Homo sapiens: one gene and its partner. The protein of the gene in region 1 purifies or fractionates together with the protein of each later gene. This does not show direct contact. Each region holds a gene or a part of one and is shown on either strand. Other genes may lie near its edges.

What was found. Proteins that work in one complex are often made in the same cells at the same time.
Region 2: the proteins of TPD52L3 (region 1) and GABPA purify together in Homo sapiens (co-immunoprecipitation; 2 studies listed by BioGRID and IntAct, with this or other methods). This does not show direct contact.

What each region holds. Positions count from the first base shown.
Region 1 is NC_000009.12:6,323,591-6,331,949, reverse strand, and holds TPD52L3 (tumor protein D55), read right to left. Parts: upstream 3,576-8,359; 5' UTR 3,355-3,575; coding exon 2,988-3,354; coding exon of another isoform or gene 2,932-2,987; exon of another isoform or gene 1,769-2,931; coding exon of another isoform or gene 1,737-1,768; exon of another isoform or gene 1,030-1,736; intron 975-1,029; coding exon 931-974; 3' UTR 59-930; downstream 1-58.
Region 2 is NC_000021.9:25,765,475-25,772,960, reverse strand, and holds the end of GABPA (GA-binding protein alpha chain), read right to left. Parts: intron 3,958-7,486; coding exon 3,729-3,957; 3' UTR 501-3,728; downstream 1-500.

The sequences.
Region 1 (8,359 bases):
ATAGGAAGGGTAGAAGCTGGTGGAAAAAGGAAATCTCGAGGAAACTTTAGAGCCAGAATCCAAATGTTCATGGAAGCATTTTATTTGGTGCCCATGACCACTGATACAAAAAAGCCAAAGCAAAATGAATGTGCAACTCCAGCTTCAATAATATCAGGCCTTTTCAATTCTACATCCTTATTATCTTGCAAATTTATCCCCCCAAGCCCCGCCTCATGCAGTTGGTTCCTAAGTCTGAGAGATTCTACCTCTTAAATACTTAATCTATTTCTCTGATGACCAGAGTAATCTAAAACAAAAATTTGATAGTTACTTTTTTACTTAAGTGCTTCAATGCCTCCCATTTCCTACAGGCTTAAATATTGATATCTAATGTAGTATGTAAGACTACTTATGATTTTGCCCCCTGCTTATTTTTTCTTACTCACGTAACACCATTTCCCCTCCCTCACTCATGTAACACCATTTCCCCTTCCTCTCTAGCCACAGTGTTAGTTCCTAGAATATGCCATTCTTATACATTCCTTTGTGACTCAGTTCCTCTGCATGTTGTCTGGAATGTTCTATTCTTGTCTGTCTGGCAAACTTCTCCTAGTCCTCTAAGACTTTCTGTCTCTCTAAAGTCTTTACTGACCTACCAAGACAGAGTTGAACACCCCTTCCTCAGGACTTCTTTTATCTCTGGCACACAGCTCTATTTTAGGACTCATTGAATTATAATGATTTGAAAGTCTAAGTGTTTCTAGAGGGCACATACGATGTCTAATTCTATGCTTTCAGAACCTGGGACAGTTCTTGATACAGAGTAGGGTCTCAGATTGGCTTTGAATAAACACGATATTTTTGTTTAAAAGCAGAAGGAACTTGTGAACAAGTTCATGTTGTTGATAGTCTCTTGGATTCCATATTTGATGTCTGAAGTATATGATGTTAATTCCTTCCTTGATTTAACGTGTATTTATTGAAGATCAATCCTAAGCCAGAAATGGGAAAACAATGATCAGCAAAAATAAATATGTACTTTACTACTTTTACGGAGTTGAGAATTTATTGGGGAAACTTACTACTGTTGTAGAAATTATTAAATAAAATATAACATCTCTCAGGTTTGGCCCATGATAATAGTCTGAGATTGTCCCTAACACAAGCCTTCCTGAAATATGTCAAAGCCTTTGCCTGTTGGACTACTTTCATTTCTTGTATGCTGCAGGCTCACCTCTTGTTCTCCAGCATACAAAGCCATTTTGGTTGATAAACACAACAAATTAAAAATCGAACATGCAAAATAGTAAAACATCTTGTTTTAATCCAAGCAAAACTTTGTCTTCAGAAATCTGTGGAGGGTTGGGATACATGAGTAACTTTACAGTTTACCAGATGCTTTTGTATTTATAGTGGTATTTGGTTTTGCTTATAGGAAAACCAAAGGAATGTTGGGGGAGCATTCAAGAGTCAACAAAACAGAATCATCCTCTTAGGCTGGAGGGATTACCATTTTAGGCAGTGAGAGATTACTGAAATGTACCCATAAGGGTCCTAGTCTCTGCCCACAGCCAATAAGATGCAAACTTCTATCTCAGGCAGTGTGTCTAGAGGAGTGAAAGAGGCTCCCAGATCTTGGCATTTTGAAAATGGAAAAGGAAAACAAACAAAAAGTATATTCGTGTGAAAATCAGATATCAGAAAATTCAAACAAGCACCGTCCAGGTTCCTACTGTCTTGAGCTCTCCAGAGGGTTATATTCTGCTTCCTTCTCCTTTAGGGTTTCCTAAAAAGAAGGGCAGACTTGGAGTTAAGAGCAAAGATGTATAGTTAGGTCCATTCAAAGGCATAACAGCCAGCATCACAGGGGACAGACGTTCTTTTTAAAATGTTCCTTGAGACAGGGGTTTATCTTTCTTGAATTTGGCTATACCTGTTTTCCTCCAGCCCCTCAGCTGGAGGTGGTAACTAACTAGGAATTGCTGCCAGAGAGGCAATTTCTTCCTTTTAAGTGAAGTGCTGCTATGGCAAAGACATGCTGCTTCAAGGGTTAAACTTTAAAACACTCATTTTGATATATAAAGAAATTATAAACAAAGCACAAGGCAAAGTTGCAATTTCAGTTTGTGTTCAAAGTAGTAATAATTTCCTAAACTGACACTGTTGTTTTGCTTAGTCCAGACCTTTGAAAACAAACGAGTTTTACAAAAGCTATATTAGTAATGTAACAATTAGTGCACTACCACTATTTTCCCCTCTTTTTCTGAGTCTCAGAGAAGATGAAGTTTTCTTGATCATCTTTTTAAAATAAAAGTTGTAGGCCAGGTGAAGCTTTCAAGGTGACTTTGAGACTGAGGGAAGGAAGGAAATGGGGAAGGGAAAACAAACAAACAAACCAAAAAAACACTACAGATTACTTCATACCTCTTTCAAGCTTAAACAGAACTCTACTTTGGCTTTCTAATAAGCTAGTTTTCCAAAAGAGAGTTTGGGCTTTGGCCTAAGACCCCTCTGGAGCCACTGACTTGCCCATTAGATACAGTCTCAGGAAAGCTAATATAATGGCACATTTCGTCTACAAACTTAAGTGAAAAATAACCAGGTACAAAACTTTGGGTTCTCTATCTTAAAAGCAGCAAATATCTGTGTTCTTTTCTCAAAACTGGATTCTGTCAATTTCCTGAATTAACCACTTTACCATTGTGGTTTGCTTGCTTGTTTTTGTTGGGCAGAGTTGCAAATGTAATAAGGGAAGGGGGTCCTTGCACTGGTTTAGTACCAGGCAAGGTTACCAAGGGGGCTCATTCTGGTTCCAGAAAGTGGAGATGGTCATCCTCACTCTCCAGAACTGGGAGTGGCTCATTCCCACTCCCCGGAATCTGGAGTGGGTCTTCCCCACACCCCAAAACTGAGAGCAGATCAACCCCACCCTCCGCAGAAGAAAGACAGTCAGGGCCAAGCTCTTTTGCCCCCTGAGACTTTGGACTTGATTGTCCCCATCAGACCTTCAAAAGATCTGAATGTGGCCGACTTCTTCACGCCTCCAAGCTTCCTGCAGATGAGAGTGCCCATGGTGGACAGAGCAGCTGATGTCTTCTGTTTCACATAGGTGTTGGAGACCTGAACATCAAGCCAGCTCTTGGACAGATTCTGTCTCAGCCCTACCAAGGCGGTGAGGCCTAACTTCCTCTTGAGTTCCCCACAGCGTCTCTCTTTGGCTGCTAGTACGTGGCGTAGGGTTACAATTTCAGCCTCCAATTTAGTGAGTTTGGTTTTGAGCTCTCTTTGCTCGGGCTCTGTCAGATCCTCCAGTTCAGAAGTCGAGTGGGATTCATATGTGCCCACAGAGGTCTCTGTCCTGGCATGTGGCATGGACTGGGAAAGAAGATCTTCGTTAAGAGAGTCCAGGTCCAATTCTTGGTAGAAAGAGTCGAATTATTGGGCTGCAGAGAAATAATCTTGGCCAGCAGAGTCGAAATCTAGGCCTGCAGGCTCAGACTCTTGGCAGGTGGAGTCAGATTTCAGGCGGGAGGGATCCATGGCCCAGCTGGTACAATGGACACCTTGACAGTTGAGTTGACGACCTGGCCTGTGAAGTAGACACGCTAGCTCGTGGTGTTCACTTCCGGGTGGTGGGGGTGGGGAGCCGGGCTGGTCAGGGTTGCGGAGGTGGGACTTCCCGCCCAAACCGCGAGGCTGTAGAATCAGTGCTCAGCTGAGGCGCAACCCACACTGGCGGCATTTTGGCATTGCGAGGACCTCCTGAGGTAGGCAGTGCAGAGATTATTGTCGAAAAGAGAGGAATTTCTCCTGACATGGTAAATGACAAGCCCTGGCCTTCAAACCAAAGCGTCAGGCAACTGTTTTCCACCACACCAGCTCCAACACTTGAAAATCATTTAAACATCATTGTGCTAGTATGAATTTTCAGTTTTGCAGTTGCATTTTCTTTATTCCGCCCTACCTCCACTCACATTTCTGGAAGCATGTCTGCCTACATTCAAGGTTACCTGTTGTGGGAGGTAGTCTGCACAGTAAAGTAAAACTAGTTAAATAGGATCTATCAGAGTGTGGATCCACTCTCCCCTGCCAACCTGCCACCCCAACCTCCCCCCAACCGTAATTCTGCCGAGAGTAAACTTATGCAATGGAAAAATCAGGACGTTAATCCAGTGAGGTCTTGTGGTCGAGCTTCACTTAGCTCATTCTATGGCTGCCTATTCTCAGAGAATATTCTTGAGCAAGTCTTAGACTCTAGTGATTTTGTTGGATATTCTTGTAATTCTTGCGAGCATGATCTTGTGGAACATAATTTGATCCTCAGCAAATTTCAGCAGTTTGCCCTACTCATGCCTATGTGGCTACAATGAAGCATCCAGCTGTGCATTCAAACCAACTTCAGCCCTCCTTTGAGTTTATGTTCTATAACCCTTTCACATAATTTAGTAGTGTTTATTATTGCCTTGTCCTGAGTGGTGTGTTTCCCTAAGTTAAAAAGTGAGAATTGTTCTTGTAAACATGAAGGCTGATGGAGGATTTGGCTATGTGTTTAAAGGCCTGAAAAGGGCAGCAAGGACTCCCTAAAAACCAATTTGTTCCAGAGGGTAGACTTTTCCTCTATTGCCTGTAGAAACACTAGTGGTTTCAGGAACACTCCCAGACTCTGAATCAGAACTCCTCTTTCAAACCTGAGACTAAAGGGTAAAGAAATCCCTGAATTATGCTACATAATATAGAACACACATTGTCTCTTCAAAGTTGAGACTCCAAATCACCAAATCTGAACTTGCACTTGATTTTACTTCTCTGTATTATTTCAACCACCAACCTTGATGCCTATTTTCTTTATAAGCTTCCTCATCCTTCAGTGTATACTATGAAATCTTTTATTAAGCCTTGATTCCTTTTGACAGAGAATGGTTTTTTTTCTCATAGCAAAACTGAGCTTTTCAGACACTTAGTTGCCAGATCCCACATCAAGACATACCCTGTCATTCAAATAGGAAAATAAGAAGTCAAATTATTTCTTTTTCAGATGATATGATTCCATATCCAGAAAACCCGAAAGGCTCCACCAAAAGGCTCCTGGAACTGATAAATGACTTCAGTAAAGTTTCAGGATATAAATTCAGTATCATTTCTATATATCAATAATGTGGCCGGGCGCGGTGGCTCACACCTGTAATCCCAGCACTTTGGGAGGCTGAGGCGGGCGGATCACGAGGTCAGGAGATCGAGACCATCCCGGCTAAAACGGTGAAACCCCGTCTCTACTAAAAATACAAAAAATTAGCCGGGCGTAGTGGCGGGCGCCTGTAGTCCCAGCTACTTGGGAGGCTGAGGCAGGAGAATGGCGTGAACCCGGGAGACGGAGCTTGCAGTGAGCCGAGATCCCGCCACTGCACTCCAGCCTGGGCGACAGAGCGAGACTCCGTCTCAAAAAAAAAAAAAAAAAAAAAAAAAAAAAAAAAAAAAAATAGACAAAAGACATGAACAGACACTTTTCAGAAGAAGACATACAAGTGGCCAACAAACATATGAAAAAACATATGAGAAAATGTTCCACATCACTAATCATCAGAGAAATTCAAATCAAAACTGTAATGAGATAACATCTCACACCTGTCAGAATGGCTATTCTTAAAAAGTCAAAAAACAACAGATGTTAAGAAGGCTATGGAGAAAAGGAAATGCTTATACACTTATACACTTGTGGTGGGAATGTAAATTCAGCTACTGTGGAAAACAGTTTATAGATTTCTCAAGTAACTTAAAACAGAACTACCATTAATCCAGCAATCCCATTACTAGGTGTATATGCAAAAGAAAACAAATCATCCTATTGAAAAGACACATGCACTCATATGTTCATCACAGCACTGTTCACAATAGCAAAGACATGGAATCAACTTAGGTGCCCATCAATAGTGGATTGGATAAAGGAAATGTGGTATATATACAGCATGAAATACTACACAGGAATAAAAAAGAATGAAATCATGTCATTTCCAGGAACATGGATGCAGTTGGAGGCCATTATCCTAGGTGAATTAATGCAGGAACAGAAAACCAAATACCACATGTGCTCACTTATAAATGGGAGCTAAACATTGGATACTCATGGTCATAAAGATGACAACAATAGACACTGGGAACTACTAGAGGGGGAAGTGGGTGGGTGGGGGAAGGGTTGAAAAACTAACCACTGGGTATTCTGCTCAGTATCTGGGTGATTAAATCATTCATAACCCAAACTTTGGCATCACACAATATACCCAAGTAACAAGCCTGCACATGTACCTCTGAATCTAAAATAAAAGTAGAAAAAAAAAAAGACAATAGCCTCTGGAAAGGATGCTCCTTATTGGCAGTGTTCTGATCTCCTGAGTAAACCTGGCTAAAGAAGTAATACAATGGAACAATCCATTTTATTAGGCTTATGCATAAGCACATACGAAACAATATTTATGTTTTGAAAACATAGATCTATCAAATGAAATTTTATTTAATTTATAGTGATAGTAACCAATTGTTTGTATAAGCTATCCTTTTAAGGTGTAAAATACCAAACACTCACCCCATAATTGTAAAATTTCACATCTCTAGATGAGACAATGGAATCCTCTATATTACACAGAAAGGCTCATAAAACTTTTCATATAAAACTGAAAGCTTTTTGATGCTATTTATTTAAATACTAAAAATAGCCAAAGTATTTGATTCAGGAACTATAAAGAAAAAGCTTGAGATTATTTGTAATCCTACAGTGGTTTGATATCCTTTGTTTCCAAGGAGGACACCACTGACCCATTTTTGATAAAGAAAGAACTGAGTTATGTCTCTAGTAAGGGTGATGGATTACACTGATCTTTTGTAAAGTAAAGGTAAGTGGTATAATAAAATGATTTTTTCTCTTTATATGTAGAAGCCTGTATATATTATGTTCTATAAATAAATTCCTAAAGCTTGAATATGAAAACAAAGCCATATCCTCCAGCAGGTCTGGGTTATTTGGGAATAGAAGAAGTTAGATCGTAGTGAGTGATACTCAAGTTTGGAAATGATTAGGAACTTGTATCAGTGCCGGCAGTTTTAACCATTTGACTTATTTTGTTATAAATGATCAATATAGAGCTTTCTGATTACATTGATGATTCAGATTGCTTCTAAAGAACTGACAACTCACCTTGCAGTCTGGTCATTTGCACTGCTAGATTTAACCTAGTGAGTTCTCTAAGGCTTTATTTCTAATATTTAAACAGTTTTTTTTCTGGTGTTCAACTACTATAATTCTAGCTGAATGCAAGGAAAAATACTTAAATATCTAATTAAGCCTGAAAATAAGGCACATAGCTGAAACCCTACTCCAGTCAGAATGTTTTAAGAGTAAGAGAAAATTGGTAGTTGGGCTTTTCTTGTGGAAAGCCAGAATATTATATTTGATTTCAATTTGCAAGTTATTTTCACTACTATCTCACATCATAGCCCAGCTCCATCAATAATATATGTAGTCACCTCTCCATATTCTCCAGCATGAACAGGAATATTGACTGCAGTTTACAACAGCAAGCATTACTGCTATCAGTCTTCATATTTCAGTGGTTAAGTTGATCTTCATTTAGGATGAGGATGATATTTTCTTTCAGCAGCTCTCCTATTTGGACTAATTAGCTTAAAAATACTTAGGTGTACTATAGGTTAGGATTTTCCTGTCTGACATCAAAATATACTATCGGTGTATTAAATCAACATTAGAGCTTATTGCTGTTATTCACCCTCTTTGGTGGTATATAATGGTGGTAGGGGTACTGGGGGAATCAAATTAAGATTCAGAGTCCAGTTGTGTCTGAAGAACTGTATTCCCCTCCTCTGTCATGCCCATTTACATGGGTTAATACGTAAGGGAGGAAGGGGCTTTCAAGGAGGAAGTTTTTTTTTTTTTTTCCTCAGGTCTTAGAGGTAGAAGAGGAATCATAAGGAGAATGAGGGATGGAAAGAAGGGAAAGAAAAATGATCAAATGATGTAGGAACTTCCCTAGATTAAAAAATGAGGGTTCTTCTTGTTGAAACATAAAAGCTTTGTATATAAAGACCTATGTAGAGTAGCAAGGAATCTGTAAACACTGTATTTTTTTCCAGAGACTGGAGTGCTTGCGGAAACACTGGTGGATCTAGGTATGTTTCTCTAGTGATGATCTAGAAATTTGGGGGATGCCTTAAAATGGAGTAGGGGATGGAAAAAGGATAAGACTGCCACTTGCTTCTCACTCTCCTTCACCCACTTCAGCCCAACCAACACTCTCCTTGAATTACATGCAGTTACAGCAAAAGCATAGATTGTTGCTATGGTTTGAAAGTGTCCCCTAAAACCTATGTG
Region 2 (7,486 bases), on another chromosome or scaffold:
TTTTAAAGCCATTTATTTCTAACCATAACTTCCTATTTAAGCATGTCAATCAAACTTTCATCATTGCTTCACCATGAAGGCAGGCATGAATCACTTTTTCCTAACCCTTTCCATTCTTCTATATTCTGATTCTGGCTGAAGCAACCTGCTGATAGCCAACATGAACAGGTGATTTTTTGTTTGTTAAAAAAAAAGGCTTTATGAAAGGTTTACAATTTAGCAATCATCAGCTTGCCTTCTGACAGCTTCATCTGTTACTATTCTAAAACAACTTGGCTTTGTAGATGGAATTTCATTAATTTCCTCAAAGAGATGAACCTACTAATTTTAGTTCAGTGAAATATGTTCTTCCCAAATTGACAGCTTTTAAGTTTAAAAATGCATCGGAATCCTATGTACAACGTATCATAAGTGGACTGTCAGATTACTATCCAACAAAATATCCTGGGGATTTAAGATTTTGTTTTCAGGAAAAAAAACTTTTAAGCAACACAGAAACATACTGTATAATAGTTTTATTTTTCTCATTTTACTATTTTTACATTTTATGCACAAATATTTATCTGCGTAAAAATAGAAAATAACTGTTTTATGTAAAATTACAAAAAAAATTAAAACCACAAAGAAATACATAATTGTTATTATGACAGTATAAGTGTCGTTGTCGTTATTTAAAGAGTAAAAATGTATGCAAAAGTCCTCCTCCCATTTACAAAAGATTGAGAATTTTGTTTTTCCTGGCAGCAAGTGAAATATTGAAGTATCAATATTTTTACACCCTTTAGATCTGAAGACATTAAGTTAGTCACAGATTTGTTTTGCAATTATGAATTTTAAAACATTTTTGTGCTATTTCAAGGATACACTAGTTCTTTCTTAAAGGCAGTAGCATAAAATGAATATGGAAAACAGCAGACCTCACAAAAATATTTGGTGGTACAATTCTTTTTGTATCATACTTGAATATCACCATTAATCAGGGGAGAAAACAACTAAACAATTTTTCCTAATAACATAGACTGATACAAAAATAACTGTGATCAGTCAATTTATCTGAAGATCAACCACACATAGCAATTCTGCCTCATTTGTTTTTCTGATGCCAACACAAATATTTAGACTTTAGGCTAGCAAGATATGTATGAAAGTTGGCTCAATAAAAACTTCACATGGAAAACAAATTTTAAAACAAAAATGAACATTTCTTTTACTTAAATTCTTGTACTTCTAAGGTACAAATGATGACCAATAATTTTATCTTTCTTCCTTTGAATATACTGTAAATTCTATGAAAAATTCATTTATAAAAACAAAGCAAAGAATAGCATAAATTTTATTTTCTTTCACAATGTTATATTTTAATAGAAGAAAAAAACTACCTTTCTGATAACTGTAACCTAAGTAAAACAAATATTTTACATATAATTTGAGGCAAAGTAATGAGTTTCTTGAATCAACTGGAGAAATTAGTCACATTACCTATGTCATGCATAAATGATGGTAAGAAGAAAAAAAAAGCATCTGATCATGTATGAGAACTGTCTCTGTTCAAATTATGAGAAATAAAATGAAAATTGCTAAAGGGAGAAAATGAATAAAATATGATTTAAAAAAAAACCATATGGGAATTGCATAGATGAGAAAAAAATTTTCATTCTAGGGATCTAAAAGTAATGTTTTTAGCTTTAAAAACATACACACACATATATAATTGAGACATGTCTATCATCTTGGCTAAAATTTTAATATATGTCTCCCCAAAAGCATTTTAAATATGAAAGCCAAGATTCTTAAGCTCTTGATGATATACCAGAAGGGTATACTTTATTATTTTTTTAAAACTACAAGCAACTTGTCAACTCTCTAGGCCGTAAGAGGATGGTGCAAAACCTTTCTTGCTGTCTATTTGTTACCTGACGTTAGAGCTTCTGTTTATTATTTCATATTGTTATTTTACTCAGATATTCTTAAAACCACAGTGCCCAAATTGTACTAATAATCTGTCCATATATTCTCTTTCAAAAAAGTAAAAATGGAAATACAAATCTTACTCTGCTCAGATATCAACTGCAGGAAGAGCTTAATAATATGAATGAATTGAGAACATGTTTTAGTAAAATTATGCATTAAGATTACCAGAGAAAGAGATCAAAGATCCCTCCCTCTCTCTCTTCTCTTCCTTGTCCTTAAGATCCCTGCCTCTTAGGATTCATTCCAAACCACTACCAGAATTGCTAACAATGCCATCTTGCCTGTATTATCATGCCTTTTTCTCCTAGTTAAGTCAAAAGCATTAACTGAGCTCTTAAGAAGCTTTTTAAGAGGACAGATTTAAAGAAAACAATGAAGGAGAAGGTGCATAAATATTTGAGAATCAACTTTCTCAAATCTGTAAGAGGATTAATAGCTATCTGCCAGTCTCATGTAATAATTCGTGCTTAATACCTTAAACAACAAAGAGAGAAAAGAAAGAAAAAGACATTTCTAGCCATTTTTGTTTAGTGTTCGCTTATGTAAGGAATGTCATATATGCAGGAATTAGTTAATTTGAATCTTAAAATGAGTTGTTTAATAATTTTTCTTCTGTATATCTTTATGCCTTCATATGTTTATAAAATGATCAACTGAATATGTATACAGCTATATGAATACACATATATAATATGGAAAAGGAAAACAAGTGGAAAAGTATTGTCTTAAAGAGAAGACTGCCTATAACAAAGGTCGTATTTTCCTTTTAAAACTATTTGCAAGTAATTTACTAATGCCTTGAAAGGTAAAGTACTACTGACTGATTTAAAGTCTTCATTTTATCAGAAACAAAGGAATATAAGCTGCTTTGCATAATAAACTGGCACTACAGGGTAATTTTTTAAAAAAGGAAGCCATAACAAACCAAAACAAACCTTTATTTTTGGGTTGAGGTATACCTTTTCAGTTTTTTAAATCTCTGACAGGAAAAACAGAGATCATTTTATAATTTTTATAACAGCTGGTTTATTAGAATTAAATGCCTCTCTCAAAATAATTTAAATTCTTGGTCTGACATGAGTAATCTATACAGAAAATCCTTAAAATTGGCTTGAGTTAATAAGCCAGATTTAAACCTGGATCTCCTCCTTCAGCACTGCTCTTTTGCCAGTCAACTTCTTACTGTCCTTTGCTTGCAAATATATAAATAACCTGATACTCTTAGTTTAGTAATTTATTAATATAAATTTATTCGGTATGAACATTTTAGCTCTGCTTGATTAGATGAAACAGGCACACATGCTTTAGCTGAGAAATTCCATTTTCTGGTTCTATGTAAAGCAACATCTAAAGCAGCAGAGAGGGGAAACAGTTATATTTTCAAAAATAGTTAAGCCAGACTGTTTCCTAGAGATACTTCATTTATTTTTCATTTTCAGATACTACTGGCTATTTTTGGTAGGGCTACACATTAATACTGACCAGTTTAGCCTTCCTGACTGTTAAACTATTCCACAATGAACCTGCCTTCACACTGCAGACATTGTGGAGATCCTTTAACATACACATATTCTAAAATATATGCTCAAAGTAAAAAGATCCAAATTCACAAGAGTATGAAATATTTATAAAAAAATCATGCATCAGACTGTACAGCCTAGAAATAAAAGAAGATTCAAATTCAGTAATAAAGGTAAGAGCTATACTTGCTCTAAACATTTTAAGAAAGACTTTGGAGTCTCAGAATGTCCTGGGGCTCAATTATCCTTTTCCGTTTGCAGAGAAGCAGTAGCCAGAGCTACTGCTGTGACTGGCTGGGCAATTCCATGGAGCTGCATCTTTGCAAGTTTCTTCTGTTCACATTCTGTGACCAAACGGTTCAACTCCGCTGCACTGTATCCAATAAGAGTCTTCAAGTCACAGACAAACTTGTACACAAATCTCTTGCCTTGAACTTTACAAATCATGTCCCCATCGTAATAATATCTTCAAAAAGAGAAAAAAAAATTAGAGACTTCAGAAAAAATGAGACTTCTTACAATAATTTACAGACTATTCCATAAGCAGAAGCCTAGTAGAGTACTGCATCCGCCACAATAGCAATTAATATTGAAGCTATGTAGAATATTTAATGCTACTATCAAATGAAACATCCCAACATTATTTACTAAAATTTCAATGCTCACTACTCCAAAACTCTATACATTAAACTTTCAAAACATATTTTCAACAATTAGAATAAAACATTGATTTAAAAATAATTATTAAACAAAACAAAAAACCTTGAGAGCAGTAGAAGAGCCTAAGAACAAGAGCTTTGGAGTCAGAAAGCCAAGATTCAAAACCTAACATTTTTGAGACCACAGGAGTCATATTTTCTCAAAGCTTTTATTCCTCATCTATAAAGTGAGGTTAACAGTGCTTATACCCTCATATCATTGTTGAGGATTAAAGGGATAATCTTTGTAAAGTGCTTAGTATACAATGACTGGCACACAGCCCTCTACAAAATATAAGCTATGTTAATAAAAATCGATAATATAAAAAAAATTAATACATATATTCCACTTCTTTTCTGTCTTGTAAAGAATCCTATATGATGAAGTCATGTCTTCATCTTTATTATTTCACTATGTAAACGCTTTCCAAATTTCAGATAAATTATCCAAGCCCAATAGGGAGCTTTAAGTCTAAGGAAAAGGTCTAAAAGAAACAGAGGATACAGAAAAACAGGTAAAGGACATTGCAAAGAGACAATGTTTCTAAACGTACACAAGCAGAGTTCCGGCAATCATTCTAGAAATCTAGTTTACTGCTGCATTCTATAGAGATGCAAATGGAGCTGGATTTATGTTTCCTTTGGAAAACAGACTTTATTTAAACACACACTATGTATTGCTAATTCCAACAACAGGAAAAAGAGGCAAGTCAAGCTCTTTCCACGACTGGCAGATTGCAAAGCCCTTATTTTAAAATTGCACTGCCCACTGACAAAGGGCTATTATAAAAGAAACAACTATTTGCAAAAGTACCAGATATAAACTATCACATTTAGCAGGATAAAAGTCACTTGGCTTAATCAAGAGTCTATTAATGAAAGGACTGACCTATATACAGGAAATTGTCATCTTTCCCTAATTCCAGAATAGCAAAAGAAAAATAGTTATGTTTGATTTCCCAGTAAGAGATATAACACATTGGGCAGTCTTGTAGTTTCCATTTATGTCAATTACATTAGTACAGAATTTGGATTTCAGCTCATAAACCAACAATTCCTTGCCATCCAGTTAAAAATGCTATAGGCATATCAATTGCTTTAAAAAATTTCTACATTAATATGTAAGACTATACGTGGGGAAAAAAAGGAAAATGGAAAAGGAAAGAGGTTTTATAATTCTAGGAGGAAAATGGAGTTGGCATAATCATATTTCTTGGTAAGAGGTGATAAAAAAGAATATACACACATAAATTTGAATTTTACTGAATACTTCTTTTGATCTAGTAGATGCATCACACAACTGTATATAGTAGCATTTATTCCACTTGTTGCCTCCCTAAAATGAAAGATACACAATACCTGTATTTCATGGATATGATTTCTTTTCTTCCCTCTTTTTTTTTAAACTTGTATTTTTTTAAACTTTTTAATTGCAAATATATCACACAAACAAAAGGACACAGAAGTGAACAGTTCAGTGATTTATTACAAAGTGAACATTCACTCACCTGTTAAGTATCACTCAGGTCAAGAAACAGAACACTGCCAGCATCTAGAATCCCCTTTATGTCCCCTCCCAATCACTCCCCAAATCCTGGCTCTAAAAGGTAAACACAAGCCTGTATCATGATAGTAATTTGACTGCTTTTTCTTTATATTTTTATCACCCAAACATGCATCCCTAAATACTGAAATTTAATTTTCCTGTTTTTTGAACTTTACTAAATAAATGTAATCATACAGAATTTGGTCTTTTGGGTCTGGATTCTGTCACTGAACATTATGTTTGTGAGGTTCACTGGTCATTGTTTGTAGCAGGAGCTTAGTTTTCAAGAATGCAAGGTATTCTTGTATGAATATACCATAAATGATTCATTCACTCTACTGTTGATAGATATCTGGTTGTTTCTGGGGTTTGGATGTTATAAATAATCTGCTATGAACATGTGTATGGGCATAGAAGTACATCTCTGTTTGATGTGTATGAAACAGTTGCTTAGGGGAGCAACTGTTACAATTTACATTCCTATCAAAAGGGTAGAAGCATTCCCATTGCTCCATATCCTCAACAGAGCTTAGTTCTGGCAATCTTTTAAATTGTAGCCACTCTAGGGGGTGAGTTGTACCATTTAATTATGGTTTTCAATTGCATTACTCTGAATACTAATGAGGCCGTACACCTTTGCATATATTCATTGGCCATTTGGATAATCTCTAGCCTGAGGTGTCTATTCAAGTCTCTTGCCCATTAAAAAATTGATTTGTAAGAATTGGTTAGATATTCTAGATACTTCTGTCCGACATGTGTGGCTCTCTTAATAAGGCTTTCAACGAACAGAAATTCCTAATTTAAATATAGTCCAGTTTATTGATCTTTCCCTTTAGAATTAGTCCTTTTGATTCTGTTTAAATGTCTCCCTACCACCAGAAGTTATGAAAGTATTTCTAGATCCTTTTCTATTTTACTTTTTACATGTAGAGCTACAAGCTACATGGAATTGATTTTTGGTACGGCATAAGCAAGAGGTCAACTTTTACTTTTCCCCAGAGATGGAGAGTAAATTATCCCAGCACTGATTATTGAAAAGCAGGTCGTTTCCTCATATGTTTTCTCCCCACTGCCATTTCTTTAAATCAAATGCTTACATATTCCTGGTTCTATTTTGGCTCCCTATTCTACTGTATGGCCTATTTGTCTTGAGAAAATAGCATAACTGTCTTATTACTGTAACTTTAGAGTCAGTCTCAATATCCTGTGGGACAAGTCTTTCCACTTTGCTAATCTTCAGGTGTCCTGACTACCATGGTACTTTATAGTCCCATGTAAATTTTACAATTATCTTCTCAAGTTCTATGAAAAACTTAGTTTGATTTTTCAAATTAAACTAAGTTGCTGCACTGAAACTTAGATCAATCTGGGGGGGAACTGACATCTTAATTATTAACTCTAACAATTTACCTGTAATTTTGAGGGGACTTGTATGTATACAATCTGTATCAACTCTCAAAAATGGCAGCTTTAATTATGATTATAAACGAAGAATCTTTAGACAGTTGGCAATGTGTTTGAGACTGAATGGTAAAGGATAAGCATTTTGAAAACTAAACATTTTAGTTACTCATGAACTCTGAGAAAAAAAGGGTCATTCAGGAAAAGAAAAATAATCACAGCCAACTATGTAATAATAGTTACATGGCCGTAATACTGTAACAATGAATACTCGCTGAACCAAAATTTCCATATAATTATATTGGGATACTGAGATGAAGGGATGGAAAGGGGAAGGGAGAGTGTGT